Homo sapiens: one gene and its partner. The protein of the gene in region 2 purifies or fractionates together with the protein of the main gene of each other region. This does not show direct contact. Each region holds a gene or a part of one and is shown on either strand. Other genes may lie near its edges.

What was found. The genes of interacting proteins can lie anywhere in the genome.
Region 1: the proteins of RNF19B (region 2) and USP15 purify together in Homo sapiens (affinity purification with mass spectrometry; 2 studies listed by BioGRID and IntAct, with this or other methods). This does not show direct contact.

What each region holds. Positions count from the first base shown.
Region 1 is NC_000012.12:62,413,493-62,416,889, forward strand, and holds the end of USP15 (ubiquitin carboxyl-terminal hydrolase 15), read left to right. Parts: 3' UTR 1-2,897; downstream 2,898-3,397. UniProt on the Homo sapiens protein: Hydrolase that removes conjugated ubiquitin from target proteins and regulates various pathways such as the TGF-beta receptor signaling, NF-kappa-B and RNF41/NRDP1-PRKN pathways.
Region 2 is NC_000001.11:32,947,802-32,951,455, forward strand, and holds part of RNF19B (E3 ubiquitin-protein ligase RNF19B), read right to left. Parts: coding exon of another isoform or gene 3,493-3,654; exon of another isoform or gene 3,407-3,492; intron 1,974-3,406; coding exon 1,768-1,973; intron 566-1,767; coding exon of another isoform or gene 563-565; coding exon 421-562; intron 1-420. Other genes in the region: metallothionein-1E-like, read right to left, coding at 3,493-3,654.

The DNA of each region.
Region 1 (3,397 bases), on a different chromosome or scaffold from region 2:
CTGGATAACTTGCTGTAGTTTCTACTTTAGCAGTTGCTGCTTCACCTTATGCTTGTCTGTTGTGGAGACAGCTTGTTTCCTTAAACTCCATGAATCAACCACTGCTAGCTTCAGACTTTTCTTCTGCAGCTTCCTTACCTTAGCCTCCATAGAATTGAAGAGAGAGGGCCTTGCTCTGCGTTAGGCTTTGGCTTAAGATAGTGTTGTGGCTGATTTGATCTATTAAAAAAAAAAAAACTCAGGCTTTCTCTATACCACTTTTCTTATGATTCATGTGTTCACTTGAGTAGCACTTTTAATTTCAGGAACTCTTCCTTTGGATATACAACTTGGCTGTTTGGCTCAAGAGGCCTAGCTTTCAGCTTGCCTTGGCTTTCAACATGCTTTCCTCACTAAGCTCCAATCATTTATAGCATTTGATTGAGAGAGAGAGAGAGATGTACAGCTCTTCACCTGAACATTTAGAGGCCATTGGATGGTTATTAACTGGCCTGGTTTTAATAGTGTTATGTCTCAGGGAATAGGGAGGCACATGGAGAGGGAGAGAGATGGGGAATGGCCAGTGGAGCAGTTGGAACACACACGTCTGTGCCCTCAAACAAAACAGTAACATCAAAGATTACTGATCACAGATCACCGTAACAGATACAATAATAATGAAGACATTTGAAATGTGAGAAGTACCAAGATATGACACACACACAGTAAGCACATTCTGTTAGGAAAATAACACCTATAGATGTGCTCAATGTAGGCTTGCCACAAGCCTTGTTTGTAAAAAAACAAAAACAATTATCTTCAAAGCATGATAATAAAGTGAAGCAGAATAAAACAAGGTATGCCTGGTTTTTGTTTTGTTTTGTTTTGAGACAAGGTCTTTCTCTGTCACCCAGGCTGGAGTGCAGTGGCACAATCTCATCTCACTGCAGCCTCCAGCCTCTGGGCTCAAGTGGTCCTCCCACCTCAGCCTCCGAAGTAGCTGGGTCTACAGGCATGTGCCACCACACCACACCTGGCTAATTTTTGTAGAGACCAGGTTTCACCATGTTACCCAGGCTGGTTTTGAAGTCTTGAACTCAGGCGATCCATCCACCTCGGCCTCCCAAAGTGCTGGGATTACAGGCATGAACCACAGCACCTGGCCATGTATTTTCATTTAACCAGTACTAAATAACTACATGTCTTTGGCAGCCTATAATGTAGCATCCCATTTTTAAAAATAGAAGTGTGTATTCAGGGTGCACTCAATAGGATTACATCTGGCTGGCAGTCCCTTCCTACTTCAGTCCATTATCCTGCTACCAGAATGATCTTCATGGTTTCATTTAAAAAAAAAAAAAATGAGATCCTGTTTCTGTCTTAAAGTTCTCTTCTAATTCCTTGTATTAATCAGGATTCTCCAGAGAAACAAGACCAATAGGATGCATATGTGTATACACATATATGTATAGCTCTCTCCCTCATATATACACATATCATGTATATACATATATATCATATATGTACATATATATATATATATATGAGGGAGAGAAAGATTTATAAGGAATTAGTTCATGCACTTAGGCTGAGAAGTCTCATGATCTTCAGTCAGCAGGCTGGAGACCCAGGAATGCCAATGGTGTAGTTCAAGTCCGAGTCCAAAGGGTTGAGAACCAGGAAAACCAATGATAAAAGTTCCAGTCCACAAGCTACCTGGCTAAAGACCCAGGAAGACTGAATGTTTCAGTTTTAGTGCAAAGGCAGGAAAAGACTGATGTCCCAGTTCAATCAGGCAAGAGAAATTATCCTTACTTGAGCCTTTTTTGTTCTATTCAGGCCTTCAATTCATGAGAGCCACCAACATTAGAGAGGGCAATCTGCCTTACTCAGTCTACTGACTTAAATGTTAATCTCATCCAAAAACACCCTCATAGATATGCCCAGAATAATGTTTGACCACATATCTGGGCACCCTGTGGCCCAGTCAACACATTAAATAAACCATCACATCCCTTCATGTAGAAAAGAGTGGTTTGGACCATAGGCTCAGGAGTTAAACCACCTCTGAGCCTACCACTTTTGTGCAACTCACCTCACCTCTCTGCCTTTCACCTCTCTGTAAACTAGAGCAGCTCCCGAATGTCCATCTAGGAAGGCTTGGGGTGAGCAACCTGATTAGAAGGGAACAATGTGACTTAAAACTGCATATTTGCTTAGCAAACCTATGACTTTTCTCAGAATATACAGTTTGCTTGTGATGGAGGGCTATTAATATTTATAAGGAAACCAAATCCCCATTCACTTAAGCCATCCACTCCTACCACTGTAATTGAATATTACCTACCTTTCAGAATAATTGCAAGGTTTTGTGTCTTGATCATTATGAAAAATGTGGCAGGTATTATTACTAATAAAGAAGTACCCAACTATGGGAATGATTGTTCCTTCCTTATGAATGAGAGCAGCTCTCTGTTCAATACGATTCATACTCAAGTTCTAATAAACTTTCTTTAGCAAGAGAGCAAAGAGTATGGTACAGTCAGTCCACCCAGGTTGCCTGTTAACCTGGTGCTTGAAGGAAAAAAAGTAAGAATTTGCCCTCATCTAATTCCTCACTTGCCCTCAAACATGTCATACTACTTGACAATGGGGCTTTCCCACATTTGTCCCACATTTGCATGGTCTGCCTTATCTCTTACCTGGCGAACTCCTACACTCCTTCAAGACTTGCTCCAAAATGCACTTGCTAGATCTTCTGACATCAACTGCCACCTTGGGCTATAAGTTACGTGTGTCTCTTCCCCCACTAGACAATTACCTGATGGAAGAATATTGTTCTTAAGATGTTAAGATGGTGTATGTGTGGCATAGTATTTGTTCCTAAATGTAAAAGTTATTAAACAAGTTTTCTGAAAGTCTGAAGCTTTATTGTGTTTATTGTGATTGTGTTGTATTCCTGACATGTTGCTGGCTACATATTTTAACAGCTTTAAAAGTAATTTACCTTATGAATGTGCACTAAAAACGTACATTTTAGATATACTAACATTTTAAGTTCGGTATTTATGAATTTGGAATATTCAAGATTAAATGTAGAAAATTTATATTTCATTTATATTTTTCTAAAGAAGTTTTAATTGTAAGGAATTCTTTTTTCCAGTAAGGAAGATACAGTTGCTATCTCTTGCTCCAGTTGGAGGGCATCCTGAATTCCCATTTGTTCAGACGCTTTTCACAACTTGGAGCTTCTGGCATCTCCACAAAAATAATACTTTGACTACACAAGGCCAGGAATACTTTTTTGAGTTGGGGATACCCCAAACATTTATCTGTTCAATACAGTTGTCCAAAGACAAGGAATGTACTCTTGATTTGGGTTCTTTGTCACCTCAAAAATCTATATTACACCTTAGAC
Region 2 (3,654 bases):
CGATATTTATGACAAAAGATAAAAGAAAGTCAAAGAATGAGGCGGAAAAAGGAGAGGCAACATGGATGAAAGGCATTTAAGTGGCTCTTAAAAGATAAGAACTGAACAAGTTGAGATAAAAGGAGGATACTGGAAGGTAGGCAGAAAGCATTCTAGGCAAAGGAAAGAACATGAACAAGTATGGAGGCAAGACAGCAAAAGGGAAAAAGCAAGTCCAGACTACCTGTAATATGGCAAGCAAAGAAAGGTAGAAACAGAATAGTAGCTGGTGAAAACATGATTAGAGGAGCATGTCAGAAGAAGTTTTCACAGCTTCCTTAAACCTGTAATGAGAGAACGGATGTGTCTTTTTGACATCCTTTTCCCTAAATCAGTAAGAGAATGAGACTACGAAAGGAATGGATGCATTTCCCATCTTACCTGAGGTAATGCAAGTCTGAGATCTCTTTCATACAAAGCCAACAGAATTCACAGCCACACACTGCACAGGTCATGTGATTACAGCTTCCATCATTCATCTTGATAATGTATGCACTGCATCGTGGGCATGGCTTGATGTCATCTGCTATGAGTGGGGGAAGAATGGGTAGAAAAAATACCCCTAGTTAAATCCAGTTTGATTTAATTGTTCCTAGGAGTATATATAAGAAATGAGGCAGCAGTCAAGAACTCTTCACTGAACACTCCAAATTGTACAACCCACTTTACTGGAAGGTTGGCTATGTCTAGACCTCAGGAATTTTCATAAAATGAATCCTGTCTCTTATTGAGCTGCCTATCCCAACAACTGGCATCTTACACAGCACTTGAACCACATTCTAGCAAGGAGATTTCCTTAGGGAGAAAGATGTTTCCAAGAAAAATGAAATTTCTACCAGTCGATAGGCTGGTAGATTTAAAAGAAGAATCCTACAGAAAGAATAGCCTGCAGCCTGGAATTAGCTTTACATTTTTAAAAACTTTAGTTTGGGAAATTTATTTTTCAGGTTCAACATGTATCATTGTGATTTGCTGTTAACATAGCCCACAATCCCTTCCCATGATACTTTCAAATTCAAAACCTAAAAACAACTGGGTATGCTATCTACCATATACTTGGTAATTTTCAGAGCAAGTTATGAACTATCCTAATAAAATGACAATTTAGGAAATTATGCTGTGCCAGGAAAAAGTGAATGGCAAAATCTTTCCTACTAGCCTCTCCCAAATGACATCAGCAAAATAAAAGTACAAAGCAATAAATCCACTGACATTTTAAAATAGGTTTCCTCTGACTCGCCAAGGTTGGAGCTGAATGTGTGACATTCCTCCTTTTAAGGTTAATCATTAATCTATACTAATACTGTTTCCTTTTCTTCAATCTGTACTCTACTTCCAAAGGCAGTGAGGCACTTAAGTCAGCTTGAAGGCAAACAGCACAGGTTTAATACTAATTAAATGTCTTTCTGTTCACAATGAAAGTTTTGAAAAAGCCCCTAGCAAAACAAAATGAACTAATTGCTCTCCAATCTGAGACATATTACTAAGAAAGTAGGAACTACATAATTCAATTTTGTTGCATTTCAATTTTATATAGTTGGATAACCTATAATGGTCAGAGAGGGAAGTGCTATCTTTATTATAATATTGAAAGTATTATCAAATGATATTTTCTGCTCTCTGATCCTTTGGAGTACTTGGGTTATACAATAAGATAATTTCTTTCAGCTATGGGCTCACATCATGAAATACCAAATAAAGAGACAATGAGATAATGCCAACTTATACCTGGTCCAGATTCTTGCCCATAACTGAGACCTGAAGTGTGTTTGGTCCGAACTCGTAAAGTCTGGGCCCTCTGTTGACGGGCCATATCGCATGTCTGATTTGGATGCCATATCTGCTTGCAGTGGTAGCAGAACTCAGTCTGGCAACCTTCCCTCTCACAAGTTAGCTTCGGGCAGCTGGCACAGCCATAGGCAATAACAGCATAACTAGGTAAGGAAACAGTAAGAGATACCAGTAAGGTAAGAATGATCTAACCAAAAGAGACATTATTCATCAGAGTTAACAATGTTTGGCACTACCCCACTATCACATATGATACAGAGAAAAGAATACACATACACACATATACACACACAAGCACATTTGACCAACTGTAAAATATATCCCATGTGAGAAAGTAAACTTTTTTTTTTTGAGACAGTCTTGCTCTGTCACCCAGGCTGGATTGTGGAGTGCAGTGGTGTAATCTCGGCTTACTACAACCTCCACCTCCCAGGTTCAAGCAATTCTCCTGCCACAGACTCCCTAGTAGCTGGGATTACAGGTGCAAGCCACCACGCCTGGCTAATTTTTTTTGTATTTTTAGTAGAGATGGGGTTTCACCATGTTGGCCAGGCTGGTCTCAAACTCCTGACCTCAGGTGATCCACCCGCCTCGGCCTCCCAAAGTGCTGGGATTACAGGCGTGAGCCACCATGCCTGGCTATAAATTTCTTGAGATTCCAAAAACACAAATCATTTATTTACTTTAAAAAGTGGAGGTGGAGTATCTTATTTATCCTGGATTTCCAGCATTTATTCAATCATAGCTGAAGCTGCTTTAGGAGTAGTTTGTCATAATAAGTTTCATAAATAACAGGGTACAAAACTATTTCCTTTTGATAGTTTGCTATATTTAGAGAGATTAGTATTTGTTTATACGAAGGAAGAGGACATTAGTGAAATAAAGAGCTATGGCAAAAACTAAAGTTTATTTTTTAATTCCTTCTTTTTTTTTTTTGAGATGGGGTCTCACTGTCACCCAGGGTGGAATGCAGTGGCTCACTGCAACCTCCGCATACCAGGCTCAAGCAATCCTCTTGCCTCAGCCTCTAGAGTAGCTGGGACTACAGGTGCGCACCACCACACTTGGCTAATTTTTGTAATTTGCATAGAGATGGGGTTTCGCCCCATTGCCCAGGCTGGTCGCAAACTTCCGGGCTCAATCAATCAGCCTGCCTCAGCCTCCCAAAGTGCTGGAATTACAGGCATGAGCCACCATGCTACCTTTTCATTCTTTTTTTTTTTTTTTTGAGATGGAGTCTCGCTCTGTCGCCAGGCTGGAGTGCAGTGGCGCGACTCGGCTCACTGCAACCTCCGCCTCCCGGGTTCAAGCGATTCTCCTGCCTCAGCCTCCTTAGTAGCTGGGACTATAGGCATGCATCACCATGCGCAGCTAATTTTTGTATTTTTGTAGAGATAGGGTTTCACCATGTTGGCCAGGATGGTCTCGATCTCTTGACCTTATGATCCGCCCTCCTCGGCCTCCCAAAGTGCTGGGATTACAGGCGTGAGCCACTGCACTCAGCCTTTTTCATTTTTTTTCTTCAAGTAAAAATTGTTTTATTGTCATTAACATATTTAATATAAAAAGAAATGAAGCAAATGGCTCAGTGTTGTATTTTTTAAAAAATCCAGGTTTGTGCAGGTTACTCTATTTACATCTGGGAGCAGAGCTGTCCCCACGTCAGGCATAGCAGTTGCACTTCTCCAACGCCCCTTTGCAGATGCAGCCCTGGGCACACTTGGCACAGCCCACGGGGCAGCAGGAGCAGCAGCTCTTCTTGCAGGAGGTGCATTTGCACTCTTTGCACTTGCAGGAGCCGGCGCACATGCAGGAGCCACCAGT